Regions from separate parts of the Homo sapiens genome. Here region 2 is linked to region 1. The links come from fine-mapping of genetic effects on gene expression. Tissue or cell type: lung. Region 1 holds a variant in brackets; the other region holds the start of a gene. All regions are shown on one strand. Distances are between the middles of the regions.

What was found. PIP is the estimated chance that this variant, and not a neighbour inherited with it, causes the effect.
Region 2: it holds the start of ZMPSTE24, and the variant in region 1 is fine-mapped to the expression of ZMPSTE24 in lung (TOPMed, PIP 0.96).

What each region holds. Positions count from the first base shown.
Region 1 is chr1:40,133,506-40,141,610 of GRCh38, reverse strand. It overlaps the pseudogene OAZ1P1. Among named protein-coding and RNA genes, the nearest start is that of RLF, 24 kb to the left of the region's middle. The variant G/A (reference allele first, on the strand shown) is at 4,049.
Region 2 is chr1:40,254,750-40,262,854 of GRCh38, reverse strand. ZMPSTE24 (zinc metallopeptidase STE24) reads right to left here and starts at 4,619. Exons shown (of 10, transcript NM_005857.5): 1 at 4,461-4,619; 2 at 1,870-2,016. The coding sequence starts at 4,583. RefSeq lists enhancers at 4,209-4,308, 4,399-4,678, 4,759-5,028, 5,259-5,388.

The DNA.
Region 1 (8,105 bases):
ATCCAGTTAAGTTTGGAGTTACATAAACAATAAATAATTTTTAAATATAAGTATGTATGTCCCATATTCAACTTAACTGGTCATCCTGTATTTTATCTGGCAACCCTGTCTTTAACCCAACCATGTGAAAAAATCAAATTGACCACTCAACATCAGGCAGTTAAAAACAATGACGAAGTGGGCGTTTTTAATTGGAAGAATAGACAAACAAGAAAATGTGTAGGGCTGGGGCCAAGAGTTGTTTAAGTGAGTTTAGGGCTGGTGGAGCCTGGGCCAAGGAGACTCTGGTGATCTGGGCTGGCAGGTCTGGGGCTGAGGTAGTAGCTTACAAGGTCAGGACAACTAGGTTCAGAGCCAAATAAATGGTTCTCATGGTCAGGAATGGCAGGGTCATGGCAAAGCCTGCAGCTCAAGGTCAGGGTCAGTAAGAATGGGGCCAAGGAGATGGCCCATGTGGTCAGGAGATTGAGCAAATAAGAAAATATATTGAGAATAGTGAGAGCCAGGTTTCTTACTCTTGGAGACAATAAGTATGAAAAGGGGAAAGACTAGAACAAACCCTGTAATTAGAGTCAGAGGTGTGAGCCTATAGGGTGTGTGTGTGTGTGAATATTATATATGATATACAAAGAGAGACAGAAGAGTAGATGTGTGTGTTTATGATATGTATAGTGGCTTTTTGGTTTTTCAAAACACACTAATTTGTAGCATTTGCTGATTTCCACGGTGTAAATACTCCCAGCATGAAATAATACTAGTTTCACAGCCACCCGCAAAGTTCCTGAATATTTAACAAGCAGCTTTTGCAAGTCCATATGAGCCAACTCCACTACAGTACTTCGGAATGTACATCATACGTATGATTGTGTGTGTGTGTGTCCAGACATATTTTTCCTAGTTGATATCTTGTTTCCTTGTCCTACTGAAAGGACTTGCAAGACCGACACACCCATAGCAATGAGTGCACCTAGCATCTACATCTTGACTTCCAAGTATCATTCTTCACTAAAAAGAAACCAAAAGTTCTTAGAGAAATGGCTGATTTCATGACTAGGGCAGTGAAAAATCTTACTGGTTCAGGAAGAAAGGAAGTATTCAAAGAATGAGGATGTAGTAAGCTAAGTAATGGCCCCTGAAGCTCTAATCTCTGGAATCTGTAAATATTATCATATACAGAAAAAGGATCTTTAGAGATATGATCAAGGAACTTGAGATGGGGAGATTGTCTTGGATTATTCAAGTGGACTTTAAATGCAAACACAAGTATCCTTGTAAGAGAGAGGCAGAGAGAGATTACGCAAAAGGAGAAGGCAGGAGGCAGAGACTGGAGTGGTGCAGCCACAAGCCAAGTGCCAGCTGGAAGCTGGGAGAGGCAAGGAACGAATTCTCCCCTAGAGCCCAGAGGAAGCATGGCCGTGTTAATATTCCTGATTTGGGCCCAGTGAAGTTGATTTTGAATGTCTGGACTTCAGAACCATGAGAACTGCAGCTGTTTTAAGCCACCGAGTTTGTGGTACACTGTTACAGCAGGCATAGCAAACTAATACAGATGAGAAATGTCAAAAGAACACAGGAGCCAGTGTAAAGAGGCTCCCACTGGCCAAATCAGGGACAATCTAGTCATCAAAGTAAATTATGATTGTAAGGAATTATAACTTATTGAATAAATTGGGAATCCTTAAGCCCACACTAATATAAATAAAAAATTAATTAAAAAGGATACAGGAGACCAGGTCCAGTGGCTCATGCCTGTAATCACAGCACTTTGGGAGGCTGAGGCAGGCAGATCACTTAAGGTCAGGAGTTTGAGACCAGCCTGGCCAGCATGGTGAAATCCCATTTCTACTAAAATTACAAAAATTAGCTGGGTGTGGCAGCGTGCACCTGTAGTCGCAGCTACTCAGGAGACTGAGGCATGAGAATCTTTTGAATCTGGATGGCGGAGGTTGTAGTGAGCCAAGATCTCGCCACTACACTGCAGCCTGGGCAACAGAGCAAGACTTGGTCTCAAAAAAAAAAAAAAAAAAAAAAGAGGATACGGGAAAGGAAATGATACTTTACTATAGAATTCAAGTAATAAATGTAGAAGAAACAATGGACATAGGAAAATCTCTATTTGGTGGCCATTATAGTAATAATCCAGGCAAGAATCATTAATGGATGCTAAAACTACTAGGTGTAAATTCGTGTATATTTATGTGTGTGTGTGTGTGTGTGTGTGTGTGTGTGTGTGTGTGTATATATATATGGAAAGAGAGAGAGAGAAATAAAGAGATAAGGAGGCAAATATGATAAAATGCCTCTGGTGGAGATTCTTCAGGATTCTCTGTACTAATCTTGCAAATCTTTTCTAAGTGTGAAATTATTCAAAACCATTTTTTAATTGTGGCAAAATATACATAAAATAAAATTTACCAACCTGTCCGTTTTTAAGCATATAGTTCAATAGTGTTAAGTACATCTGCATTGTTGTGCAACCAATCTCCAAAACTCTTATCTTGCAATCTAAAACTCTATACCCATTAAACAACTCCCCATTTCCCTTCTCCCCAGCCCCTAACAACCACTATTCAACTTTCTGTCTATAAATTTGACTACTAAGTACCTGATATAGGTGGAATCATACAGTATTTGTCTTTTTGTGACTGGCTTAGCGTAATGTTGTCAAGGTGCTACATCCATGGTATAGCATATGTCAGGATTTCCTTCCTTTTTAAGGTGGAATAATATTCCATTGTATGGATATATCCTATTTTGCTTATCCATTCATCTGTTGATGGACATTTGGGTTGCTTCCATGTTTCAGCTATTGTGAATAATGCTGCTCTGAACATGGGTGTACAAATAACTCTTCAAGACCTTGCCTTCAATTCTTTTGGATATATACCCAGAAGTATCAGTGCTGGATCATATGAAAATTTTATGTTTAATTTTTTGAGGAACTGCCATACTGTTTTCCATAGCAGCTGCACCATTTTTCTCTCTTTTCTTTTCTTTTCTTTCTTTTTTTTTTTTTTTTTTTTTGAGACAGAGTTTTGCTCTTGTTGCCCAGGCTGGAGTACAATGGCGTGATGCTGGCTCACTGCAACCTCCGCCTCCCGGGTTCAAGTGATTCTCCTGCCTCAGCCTCCCGAGTAGCTGGGATTACAGGCACCCGCCACCACGACCAGCTAATTTTTGTATTTTTAGTAGAGATGGGGTTTCACCATGTTGACCAGGCTGGTTTCAAACTCCTGACCTCAGGTGATCCACCCGCCTTGGCCTCCCAAAGTGCCGGAATTACAGGTGTGAGCCACCGCGCCCAGCCAACAGCTGCACCATTTTTCATTCCCATCAACAGTACACAAGGATTCTGATTTCTCCACATCCTCACCAAAACTTGTTATTTTCTTCATATTTTTGATAGTGGCCATCCTAATGCGTATGAGATTGTAGCTCGTTGTTTTGATTTGCGTTTCCCTAATGATTAGTGATGTCAAACATCTTTGCATGTGCTTTTTGGCCATGTGCATATCTTCTTTGGAGAAATAACTATTCAAGCTCTTTGCCCTTTTTGTTTTTTTTGTTTTTTTTTTTTGCGACGGAGTCTTGCTCTGTTGCCCAGGCTGGAGTGCAGTGGTGTGATCTCAGCTCACTGCAACCTCCACCTCCCAGTTCAAGCAATTCTCCTGCCTCAGCCTCCCATGTAGCTGGGATTACAGGTGCACGTCACCATGCCTGGTTAATTTTTTTGCATTTTTAGTAGAGACAAAGTTTCACTGTGCTAGCCAGGATGGTCTCGATCTCCTGACCTCATGATCCTCCTGCCTCAACCTCCCAAAGTGCTGGAATTACAGGCGTGAGCCACTGTGCCCAGCTTATTTGCCCAATTTTTAATTGGGTTGTTTGTTTTGCTGTGAGAACTCTCTGTATATTCTGGATATTAACCCCTTATCAGATATAGGAGTGCAATTATTTTCTCTCATTCTGTGGGTTGCCTTTTTACCCTGATTGTGTCCTTTAGAGCATTGTTTGTTTGTTTTTTGAGACAGTTTCACTCTTGTTGCCC[G/A]GGCTGGAGTGCAATGGCACGATCTCAGCTCACTGCAACCTCCGCCTCCCAGGCTCAAGCGATTCTCCCATCTCAGCCTCCTGAGTAACTGGGATTACAGGCGCCCACCACCACACCTGGCTAAATTTTGTATTTTTAGCAGAGACAGGGTTTCTCTATGTTGGTCAGGCTGGTCTTGAACTCCCAACCTCAGGTGATCCGCCCGCCTCGGCCTCCCAAATTGCTGGGATTACAGGCGTGAGCCACAGCGCCCAGCCTAGAGCATAGTTTTATCTATTTTCACTTTTGTTGCCTGTGCTTTTGGTGTCATATTCAAGAAATCACTGCTAAATCCAACGTTATGAACAATCGTTATAAACAACGTTATGTTTTCTTTTAAAAGTTTTATAGTTTTAGCTCTTATTTGAGGTCTTTGATCTAATTATTTTAGGTCTTCGAATTAATTACTGTATATGGTATAAGGTAGGGTTTTAACTTTATTCATTTATATGTGGATATCCAGTTTTCCCAAAACTATTTCTTGAAAAGACTGTCCTTTCCCAGTTGAATATACCTGGCACCCTTGCCAAAAGTCATTTGATCATATATAGGAGGGTTTATTTCTGGGCTCTATTTCTACTCCATTGGTCTATATGTCTGTCTTTATGCCAAGAGCACACTGTTTTAGTGACTCTGGCTTCATTAAAAGTTTCAAAATCAGAAAATGTAAAACCTACAACTTTGTTTTTCTTTTTAAAGATTGTTTTGACCATTCAGGGTCTCTTGAAATTTCACATAAATTTTAGGATGGATATTTCTATAAAACAAAAACTTTTAAAAATGCTTTTCTATAGAAGGAGATGGCACCATTACCTATTCTTATAATTCAGGGTGTTCTTAAAATAGTCATGACTGGCCACAGACATGAAATTAGGGGCACTTTTGAGATATGCCTTAATAGTACTGGAATCCTGTCCAGAGAAAGTTGAAAAGCCCAAGACAACGTTTTATGAGATTTTTTCCTTCCCTGTTTGTGCCAATTAGAGCAGGCTCAGCAGCTTTCTGGTCCACCTCCCCCAAGGCTATTACGTCGGAAAAGAGGGCTCATCTCTCATGGGTTTATTTGTTCCACAGGCCTTTTGGGGGTCATAAAGAGTTTAGTGAGTTTTGATAGGATTGCTTTATCTTATTCAAAGATAAAGATAAAATTTAACAAGTACTGCATAGTCACAACATCTTTTATGGCCATGTATCATTCAACAGAATAAAATGATCTTTGATTCATTTGCTCAATGTACTTGAAATCAAATCATTCAATATGACTCTTCTCTTTCTAAGATTAGAAAAATAATAATGTATATTTTTAAAATACATGTACACAGATGCTGGCTCTGTACTTACTAGGTAAGGCTGTTAAACTCTTTGTGTCTCAGATCTTTAAAATTGAAAACTAGTAGAAACTACATCATGGGGTTCCCTGAGGATCAAATGTGTTAATATATGCAAAATGTCTAGAACAATGTTATGTAAATATCAGCCATTATTATTCTCTTATTAGGTGTTGTGAGGATTAACGTAAATGAGATTACCCTTGTGAAGCTTGTGGTACAGTGCCTGGTACATAGAAAGTGCTAAATAAATATTGGCTATCATTATAAACAGATATTTCTGTGATTTATTATGAAGCCCACACCTTCATTAGGTACATCTTACCTTTCTTTACAACTTGGATACATGGGGAATTTGTTATCACAATAAGCATGGATTGAGTCTTCCTCTGTCATCCAGGCTGGAGTGCAGTGGTGTCATCATAGTTCATTGCAGCATCGAACTCTTGGGCTCAAATGATTCTCCCACCTCAGCCTCCTGGGTGGCTGGGACTACAGGTGCACACCACCGTGCCTGGCAAGCAACTCATTTTTCAGGCCCTGTGGTTGCGTTGTCCAATATGGTAACCTGTGGCCACATATAGCAATATGTCTGTCTTTATGCCAGTATCACGGTTTTAGTGAAATATGAGTAATACAAATTGAAATATGGCTAATACAAACTGAGAAGAGCTGGCCGGGCATGGTGGCTCACGCCTGTAATCCCCGCACTTTGGGAGGCCGAGGCGGGTGGATCACCTGAGGGGAGTTCGAGACCAGCCTGGCCAACATGGTGAAACCCCGTCTCCACTAAAAATACAAAAATTAGCTGGGCATGGTGGTGCACGCCTGTAATCCCAGCTACTCAGGAGGCTGAGGCAGGAGAATCACTTGAACCCAGAAGGTGGAGGCTGCAGTGAGCCGAGACCACACCACTGCACTGCAGCCTGGGTGGCAGAGTGAAACTCTGTCTCAAAAAATAAAAAAAGTAAAATACACACCAGATTTCAAAGACTTAGTACAAAGCCGGGCATGGTGGCCTATACCTATAATCCCAGTGCTTTGGAAGTCCAAGGCAGGAGGATTGCTTGAGGCCAGGAGTTCACGACTAGCCTAGGCAACATAGGGAGACTTTGTCTCTACAAAAAATGTAAAAATTAGCCGGGCATGTTGTTGTGCTCCTGCAGTCTCAGGTACTCAGGAGGCTGAGGTGGGAGGATTGTTTGAGCCCAGGAGTTCAAGACTGCAGTAAGCTATGATTATGCCAGTATACTTCAGCCTGGGTGACAGAACAAGACCCTGTTGAAGAAGAAAAGAAGGAGGAGAAGGAGACAGAGAAGGAGAAGGGGAAAGAGGAGGAGGAGGAAGAGGAGGATGAGGAGACCTACTATGAGATTCAAGTGATTCTTAGTATGAGGAAGAAGAAGAGGAGGAGGAGGAGGAGGAGGAGACCTAGTATGAGATTCAAACGATTCTTCTCCCTCAGCCTCCCAACTAGCTGGGATTACAGGCGCCTGCCACCACACCCAGCTAATTTTTGTATTTTTAGTAGAGATGGGGTTTCACCGTGTTAGCCAGGATGGTCTCAATCTCCTGACCTCGTGATCCGCCTGCCTCAGCCTCCCAAAGTGCTGGGATTACAGGCGTGAACCACTGCCTCACATTTTTATTTCTATTGGACAGTGCTTCCTTATATGGTAATAATTGTGATTGTTTACTCAAGTCATGACCATAGCTCTAAGGTGGAACTTTCATAATTTGACTTAATAAATAATATTCTCAAATGTTTATAAACATATATTGATAATTTACTTCTACATTGTAACTATATTTTAACCATATCTCATGTTAACATCTCTTTATTTTATATTATCCTGGATTCAGGGCGTATATATAGATTTAACTTGTTCCAGTTGATTATAGGCATTGATTTCCATATTCAACCTGTCATGGTTTGACTGTCCCTGGGCGTGAAAACTTTCTTCTCAAACCTTCCTGTTTGACTCCTGCAACATTATACTTGAAACCCCCCAAAAATTCCTCCTTCCCATCAGTAACAAAATATATCAGGCATTTCTCTGCCTGGAGATTTGGCACTGGCCACTATTTTTATGAAGGTTAACATGGAGGATTTAGGCACCAGGGCTGCAATGTATCATCTTCAGTGACCGCAGGGTGTCAGCAGGGCCAAAAACAAAGCAAACATTTAACCATTTCATTGGCTGAATGAGACTTTTCAGAGTCATGGATTCAATTTAACTCTAATCTCATTATTTTTATCTTACTCTAATACAAATAATAATTCTAAATAAAATTAAAATTCTACATCAAAATCCTAATTATTTAACATTACAATCCTCCCTCTCCAACGTTCCTGATCCCTCTTATTCCGCTCTATTTCGTTAATGGCACTTATATCTTCCAGCATATCATGTCTCAATTTTCATTTCTTTTTTTTTTTTTTTTGAGACGGAGTTTCACTCTTGTTGCCCATTCTGGAGTGCAACGGCACGATCTTGGTTCACCACAACCTCCGCCTCCTGGGTTCAAGCAATTCTCCTGCCTCAGCCTCCCAAGTAGCTGAAATTACAGGCAGGCGCCACCACGCCCAGCTAATTTTTTTTTTTTTTTTTTTTTTTTAGCGTTCATTTGCAGTTACAACATGTGGATAAACCCAGGCGAGATGAGCGAGCCTACCGTTCGCACCCACC
Region 2 (8,105 bases), 120 kb before region 1:
TTGTTCAACAATTCTCTGGAACTGGTGAAACAGAAGGGGAAATGTCAGTTGACAAAACAGCAAAACTCAGCCGTCAGACATCAACTGCAGAAAGAAGAGGCAAATACACTTACCAAGCAATGGAGGGAAAACATGCAAAATATTAAGTCAAGTTTGGAAGCAACTAGCTTTTGGGGAGAATGATACATTTAAGATCTTGGATATGTTTAATGTATTTTTTAAAGTTACTATAATTCTTTTTTGAGCTCCCTTTAGTCTTTTTTGGACCAAGGCCATTATATAAATACATAAGTAAACTCTCTTTCATCTATTTAAAAAAAAAAAAAAAAGAATAGTGTCTAAATTAACCACTTCTACTTCCATCTGTCTCTGAAGGATGATTTCCTACTTGTGACATGTCCCTAACAGAAGCAATGCTCAGATAAATTAACTAAAGCCAAGTCTTTATTGAAAAGATTACTTAATAGCAATAGCTGTGTATCCCCAAAGCCAATGAGACTTTGTTTTCCAAATCATTTATTAATTTTTCTAAATACCAAAATTTAACTCTTCTAGAAGCATTGCCATTTTCCATCACCTTGAAGAAATAAGTGCAGTTTCTAATAATTTGGATCTAACCACACTAGTCTTATTATTCCATACTTGTTAAGAAAAATTTTGTGATGAGCTAGACAATTCTGTCATTTACCACAGCTACATAAAGCCAGTTTCTTTAACTCATGAAACAATGATGGTAGCTGATCATAATTCTTTTAAATTTAGGAATCTTTCTCTTAGTGGTACTAGTAGATCTAAAAGTTCTAGAGAAATGATGATGATGATGATCAGGATGATAAAAATAAAAGTGGCAGGGCACAGTGGCTCATGACTGTAATCCCAGTACTTTGGGAGGCCAAGGCAGGCAGATCACGAGGTCAAGAGATCGAGACCATCCTGGCTAACATGGTGAAACCCCGTCTCTACTAAAAATACAAAAAATTAGCCAGGTGTGGTGGCACGCGCCTGTAGTCCCAGCTACTCAGGAGCCTAAGGTAGGAGAATCGCTTGAACCCGGGAGGTGGAGATTGCAGTGAGCCAAGATCGTGCGACTGCACTCCAGCCTGGGCGACAGAGCAAGACACTGCTCAAAAACAAAAACAAAACAAAACAAAAAAAGCAACAAAAAAACCCCACATTATTTCATTCAATAAATAGGAACTATATGCTGATTACATGCCAGGCACTAGGTATAAAATGATGAACAAGACTTAACTATTTCTTTAAGGAACTACCAGTCTGCCAATTAAACAGTCAAATCAGGCCAGGTACAGTGTGGCTCATGCCTATAATCCCAGCACTCTGAGACGGTATGGTGGCATGCAACTGTAGTCCCAACTACTCGGGAGGCTGAGGTGGGAGGATCATTTGCGCCTAGGAAGCAGAGGTTGCAGTGAGCCAAGATCACGCCACTGTACTTCAGCCTGGGTGACAGAGCAAGACTGTGCCAGAAGAAAAAAAAAAAAATCCAGGCAAATTCAACATAATGAGATAAGTACTCTGACAGGAATAATGATAGAATGCTACCCTATCCACATTCGTCAGGCAGGGAGTTTCAAATGGTTGCTTAGAAGACATGACATCTCAGCTGGATCCTAATGGAAGAGGATCTTTTTCCTACCTGGCTTCAGGGTAATAGTTCCCATATTCTATAGTTTTCAACTGACTAAGCAGTTATGTTTCTGTCTTTTTTGCTCCACAGCCGTTACTATCAATAACAAAGGTTAAGAAAGCATTCTGGGACTTGTAAGTGTGGTACCCTCTTTTGTGTTACAAAAATATGAAAATGAAAACAACCAGACAGACTGTCTCTCCAAGAAGTAAATTACTCACAGTGCCTTCAGTCTCTGAATAGAGTCCTGACCAGAAGCTGAAAGTGCTTTTATCCAGTTGATAGAGTCGAGATTTCTCAAATGTTTCAGAATCCATGATCTGTCCTAACTCCGGTGGTACATGAGTTGTTGTTTTATATATCCTTCTCTGAAATATTTTAAAGAAAACACTTTAGTGAAATAGTTGTTTATTACAATAGTCATTTATGATCAAACATCGAATGGTTTATAGCTTGCCACTTATATCTGTTGAATTTGCTTTATACCTACACAAATATTGCACTTGATCAAGTACATGAAACGACTGATGCAGGAAAATAAAAGCAGAACAAGAGAACCTGAGGTGACCTGACTGGTAAAACTATAATCAGGGTTGTCATCACACTTCAGTTTGTATATGTAAACCAAAGCTGTTAACATCACAACTTTGTTACATGTACTACTCATTCTGGGTATTACATACCTCCTATAATACGGAAAACAAATTCATGCAAAGGAGAAGCACACATGCTAACTGTGAGTATGAACAGATACTGAGGCTGCTCATTAAATTTGGTCCTAAATGCCAGAAACTTGAGGATCACCAGATGGAAACATATCAGGTCTGTGAGAAAAGACCAATTTTCAGCCGGGCACGGTGGGTCACGCCTGTAATCCCAGCAGTTTGGAAGACAGGGGCAGAAGGATTCCTTGAGCCCAGGAGTTCAAGACTGGCCTGAGCAATGTGGTGAAATCCCGTCTCTACAAAAAATACAAAAATTAGCAGAGTGTGGTGGTATGCACCTGTGGTCCCAGCTATTTGGGGGGCTGAGGTGGGAGGATCACTTGAGCCTGGGAGGCAGAGGTTGCAGTAAGCCCATATTGTGCCACAGCACTACACCCTGGGTGACAGAGAATCTATCTCCTTAAAAAAAAAAAAAAAAAAAAAAAAGGAGAAAGATCAACTATCTCATTATACTAAATTATAAAAGGTAAGGGTAATTTCAGTCCAGGAAATGTAATACAGAGAATGGATACCAAACAAAATAATGGGCCACTACAACATGCTTTCCCTATATATTGTTGTGTGCCAATAAAAGCTGAGGGGAGATCGAGCACGGTGGCTCATGCCTGTAATCCCAGCCCTTTGGGAGGTGGAGGCGGCAAGATGACTTGAGTCCAGGAACTCCAGACCACCCCGGGCAACATCTCTACAAAAAAATCAAACAATTAGCCAGGCACAGTGATCCGCACCTGTGGTCCTAGCAACTCAGAAGGCTGAGGTGGAGGTGGAGGGGTCGTTTGAGCCCACGAGTTCGAGGCTGCCTTGAGCTATGATGATGCTACTGTGCTCCAGTCTGGGTGGCAGAGTGAGCCCCTGTCTCTAAATACAATAAATATTCTATCCTGGCCAAGATGGTGAAACCCCGTCTCTACTAAAAATACTAAAATTAGCTGGGCGTGGTGGCACGTGCCTGTAATCCTAGCTACTCGGGATGCTGAGGCAGGAGAATCATTTGAACATCCCTCCCTCTGCGCGCTGCTGGCAGTGTCACAGACACACTCTTCCCCTTGCAGACTCTCCCTCGTCCCTCCTAGTTTCTTGCAGTGAGCCGAGATAACGCCACTGTACTCCAGCCTGGTGACAGAGCTAGACTCTAAAATTAAATAAATAAATAAAGATTAAAAATAAATAAATAAAAGTTCAGATCTCTAAACCATGGTTATCTCAGGTAAATTGTTAACTTTCACTTTTTATTTTACCATTTTAATATTTAAACTAAAATAATGTTGATTTTATGAAAAACGAGAAATATATTTCATTTAATTTCATTTATTTATTTATTTTGAGATTGAGTTTCACTCTTGTCGCCCAGGCTGGAGTGCAGTGGCACAATCTCAGCTCACTGCAACCTCCGCCTACTGGGTTCAAATGATTCTCCTGCCTCAGCCTCCCAAGTAGCTGGGACTACAGGTGCGCGCCACCACACCCGGCTAATTTTTCTATTTTTAGTAGAGACGGGTTTTCGCCACGTTGGTCAGGCTGGTCTCGAACTCCTGACCCCAGGTGATCCGCCCGCCTCGGCCTCCCAAAGTGCTGGGATTACAGGCATGAGACACCACGCCGGGCCCGATAAGTTTTTTGTTTGTTTGTTTGTTTTTTCAAGCAGAAACAATATATGCACTTTAAGGAGAAACAAGAGTGCAAGTTCTTGGAAGGACTGCAAAATCCTATGGTTAGGCATGATTACATAAATGTCATGAGGAAGTTGGGTGTCTAAATCCTTTTAAAGGCTTATTCCAAAGATAAAGGAGGCCAAGTCTGGGCCCAAGGATCCCAAGGAAGCTGCAGGGAGGGCACAAGAGCCCAAGCCTTCCTCCAGGCCCTAAAGGGATTGGGTCCCATGATAACGTTACAGAAAACTTCCTTGACGCACCAAGACCCTCCTCAAAGCCACAGTCCGCCATCGGGCCAAGTTACGAGACTCAGCAGGGACCACAAAGACGAGACTGGCGCGGGGACCGAAGCAATCAAGAGTCTCAGGGTCGAAGCCAAGGCTACTCCAGGGCTGGCCGGGTATGGGGGTCAGGTTGGACCCTGTCTAGGCTCACCTGCCGCTGTGCTAGGAAGGTCTCCCAAAGATACACTGTCCAGGAAAAGAGCAGCACGGCCCCGAAGATACGCTTCTCGGCCGGCATCTCCCACAAAGCGTCCAGCGATGCCCACATCCCCATGGCCACCCGGTTCCGCCGGCTCCTTCAGCGTGCACCGGTGCCACACCGACACTCGTCCCTTCAGAGCGTCCCCGCGGTGTCACAGCAATATCCGTTCTTTCCGAGGGCCCCTACGCCGATACCCGCCCCCATCCCTCCCTCTGCGCGCTGCTGGCAGTGTCACAGACACACTCTTCCCCTTGCAGACTCTCCCTAGTCCCTCCTAGTTTCTACAGGAAAAGCCCCAGCCCCACCTTCCTCACTTCCGGCCCAAAGAGGGCGGGGACCCAAACGCCGAGTTCCGGGCCCGGCTGAGCTGTGTTGCATCAACATTCTTCCCCCACGTCTTGACGCTGGGTTCCGGCCTAGGGTTCTGGCTTTCCTCCTGGGCTAGTGAACGCGGCGAAGTCCTCCTCTTTCTAATCTCCAGAGCCGCAGTTCCATCCTCTGGGTCAGCGGCTTACCCTGACTGGGCTGCGGTATCTGCCTTCCTTCCCCCAACAAGGCGACAGGTAGTCGGGGCTGGGGCCGGAACTGACTGAGTGGGCCGCAACTGACTGAGTGGGCCGCGGCTCCCGCCTGAGGAGGCTAGGAAGGACTGAACAGCAGCCGACTTCCCAGGCTCTAAAAATCGTGCCTCTGAGTTAGAGCTACCTCAAAAGCAAGACCAAGCATGAGAAATGGAGTCTTTTGGCCAGTATTGGGGTGTTCGGAATTCAAGCGTATGAGAGAGTGGACGGTAGCGTTGAGAATTTTCATTTGAAGATCTCGTCTTAACCACCCCAAGTGTAGTCAGAGGCGGCGTTTTCCCTGCGAGAGTGCCCTGGAACAAAGCAAGGATAGCGTGGGTTAGACATACCTGAAATGAAAGCGTCTTACTTTATCTAGGTACATATTTGCGTCAGTAAGGCGCAACGCCATTTCTCTCTTGGAATTCAGAAGTGAAATATGGTGACTGGGACGCCTGTACATTGCTTTGACTTAAAAATTGAAGTCCATTATTCTGACCGAAAGTTAATCTGATGATTAATTGGTTAAACATACTATCGTTGCTAATTAGCATAATTATTATTTACAATAAAGTGAGCTAAATAGCTACAACTAAAATATATTTAAATTACTGTGATATTGTGATGCTAAAGATGTGTTGAAATTAATATCTTGAATTTCTCAACCCTGCCTAAATGCCTCTGAGAGTAATTAGTATAATTAAAAGTCACTAGAGAAAGTGAATGACTCTAATAACAGGATAACAAATTCTTTTCAAGTCAGATGGTTTCCAGTTCTTTGCTTTCAACAAAATTAATGGTGGCCCATGAATTGTCAGCTGATGAAGGAACACTATTTGGTTTTTGGCATGCAACTCGGAAAGAAACCAAACGATTGATTGACATGCTTACAACAAAACTACTAGCATTCTCACCTATTTATGTAAAACCATTTCTCAGCACTTGTATCTGTGAAAACAACAGAATTGAAAATGAACCCTGTTAATCTACCAGTAGGAACTATTCATCCAGATAAATGAATTAATTGGTGGGTCAGCCCCATCTATCTCACTAAGAGATGTGTTCCCAATAGAATTTCACCTTTTATAACTGTGTGTTATCAATATTTGCAATCGTGTCATTTTGATCCATTATATACTAAAGATGATTGTGATGATTACTCACTTCAGAAGAATTCCAGCGTAGAGCCATAAAGTTACACGAAATTTTTTAAGGTTTACTACATATGTCATATTTTTATTGCGAAGAAGTGATCAAGAAAAGGTTGTTCAAACATCAAAGTACTATATTTGAATAACATTTTTTGTTAGAGTACAATCTAAATATGTTAGAGATAATAAAAGAACAATGTTGAAGAGCTCATTAGTGTATGTTTTAATGCATAATGGTGGTTATTCAGTTGTTATGTAGATTCTCTTGGATACATTATAAAGAGTGATTTAACAGTTTTATCTTAAAATGTCAGTATTTACAATTTGCAAGAATTTACATCCATTGCAACTATTTGAATTTATGATGGAACCAGTTAGATACCAACTTAAATATATAAGGGGTAAACACTTTTTCAAAATTTTCTCTCCCTCAGGCCATCATTGCTATGCCCTCTTCACTCTTGACTTCAGCTGTCTGTGAGTCCAAAGCCTCACAGGAGCTTCTACCACCCAAGCTTTGTGGCTAAGGGCACAGGTTTAGAGTCAAGCTGCTTGATTGCCAGCCACGGCCGCACCATGTATTAGCACGTTCTTTAATCTGTGCATCAGATCCTCATCAGTAAAATGAGAATAACATAGTATGTACTTACTTTCTCATACTGTTAGGATCAAATGAGAAAATTCATGTAAAGCTCCTAGCAATGTAGATGGCCCTGAGTGCCCAATAAAGGTTAGCTACTGCTTGGGAGAGGGGCATCATAGCATTGATCTGTCACCATGTGTCTGAAGAGATAGGAGAGTAGGAGGCCGAGGTGTCAAAAAGCCAAGACTGACTGGAATTCATTCATTCAATAAATACTGAATGTCTGCGAAATGCCAGACGCATTTCCAGGTGCCAGGGATATAGCAGTGAACCAAAGCCCCTCTCCTGGAGCTTACATTCTTAGCTGGGGTGGATGCAGTGTTTGATAAATAATAAGCAAATATTTAATAGTAAAAGTGGAAGTGGTGATAAGTGCTATGAAGAAAAAGCAGCAAAAAGGCAATACAGCATGTTGGTGTGAGGGATGCTGCTTTACATAAGTTGGTCAAGGAAGCCTTCTCAGATTAACTGGCATTTGAGTCCCCCAAAAAAAGTAAGAGAACAAGCTGTGTGGATATCTGAGGAAATTGCCAGTCAGAGTGAAGAGCAAGTGCAAAGGCCCTGAGATTGGCCAATGCTTATCATATCTGAGGAATGGCAAGAGGCTGTGGAAAGAGTAAGGAAGAGGGGGAGTGCAGATCCATGCCATCATGCAGTCTTTTAGTTAAAAGACTTTTACTTAGAATGAAAGAATAAGCCATTGCAGGATTTTGAGCAGAGCATTGCAGAGTTTTGAGCAGACAATCCTTCTCATTACAACGTGGAGAATAAATTTAATGGGGAATGGAAGGAGGGAGTGCAGTTAGGAGGCCATTTCAAGAATCCAGGTGATTTAGCAGTTGCCAAGGATATCAGAAAAAAAGAAAAAAGAATCCAGGTGAGAGATGGTAGTGCAGACTAATGTGGTGGCAGTGGAGAACTAGTGAATTATGGAAAGTGAATAATCACTTGTTTCTCTTTTCAGAAAGACAGTACTAATAGAAGGGCTGGCCTGTGTGGAGTCTAAAAATGGGAACCTCAAAACAGGCTGTTGGCAGGATTTTGCTAAAGGAGAAAGACTGGCAGGGTGTGCTGGCTCACACCTGTAATCTCAGTTCTTTGGGAGGCCAAGGTGGGATAATTGCTTGAGTGCAGGAGTTCGAGACCAGCCTAGGCAACACAGTGAGACTTCATCTCTATAAAAATAAATAAAATGACTGAATTTGAAAGATAAAGATTATTATCCCTAGAGTGATAGACA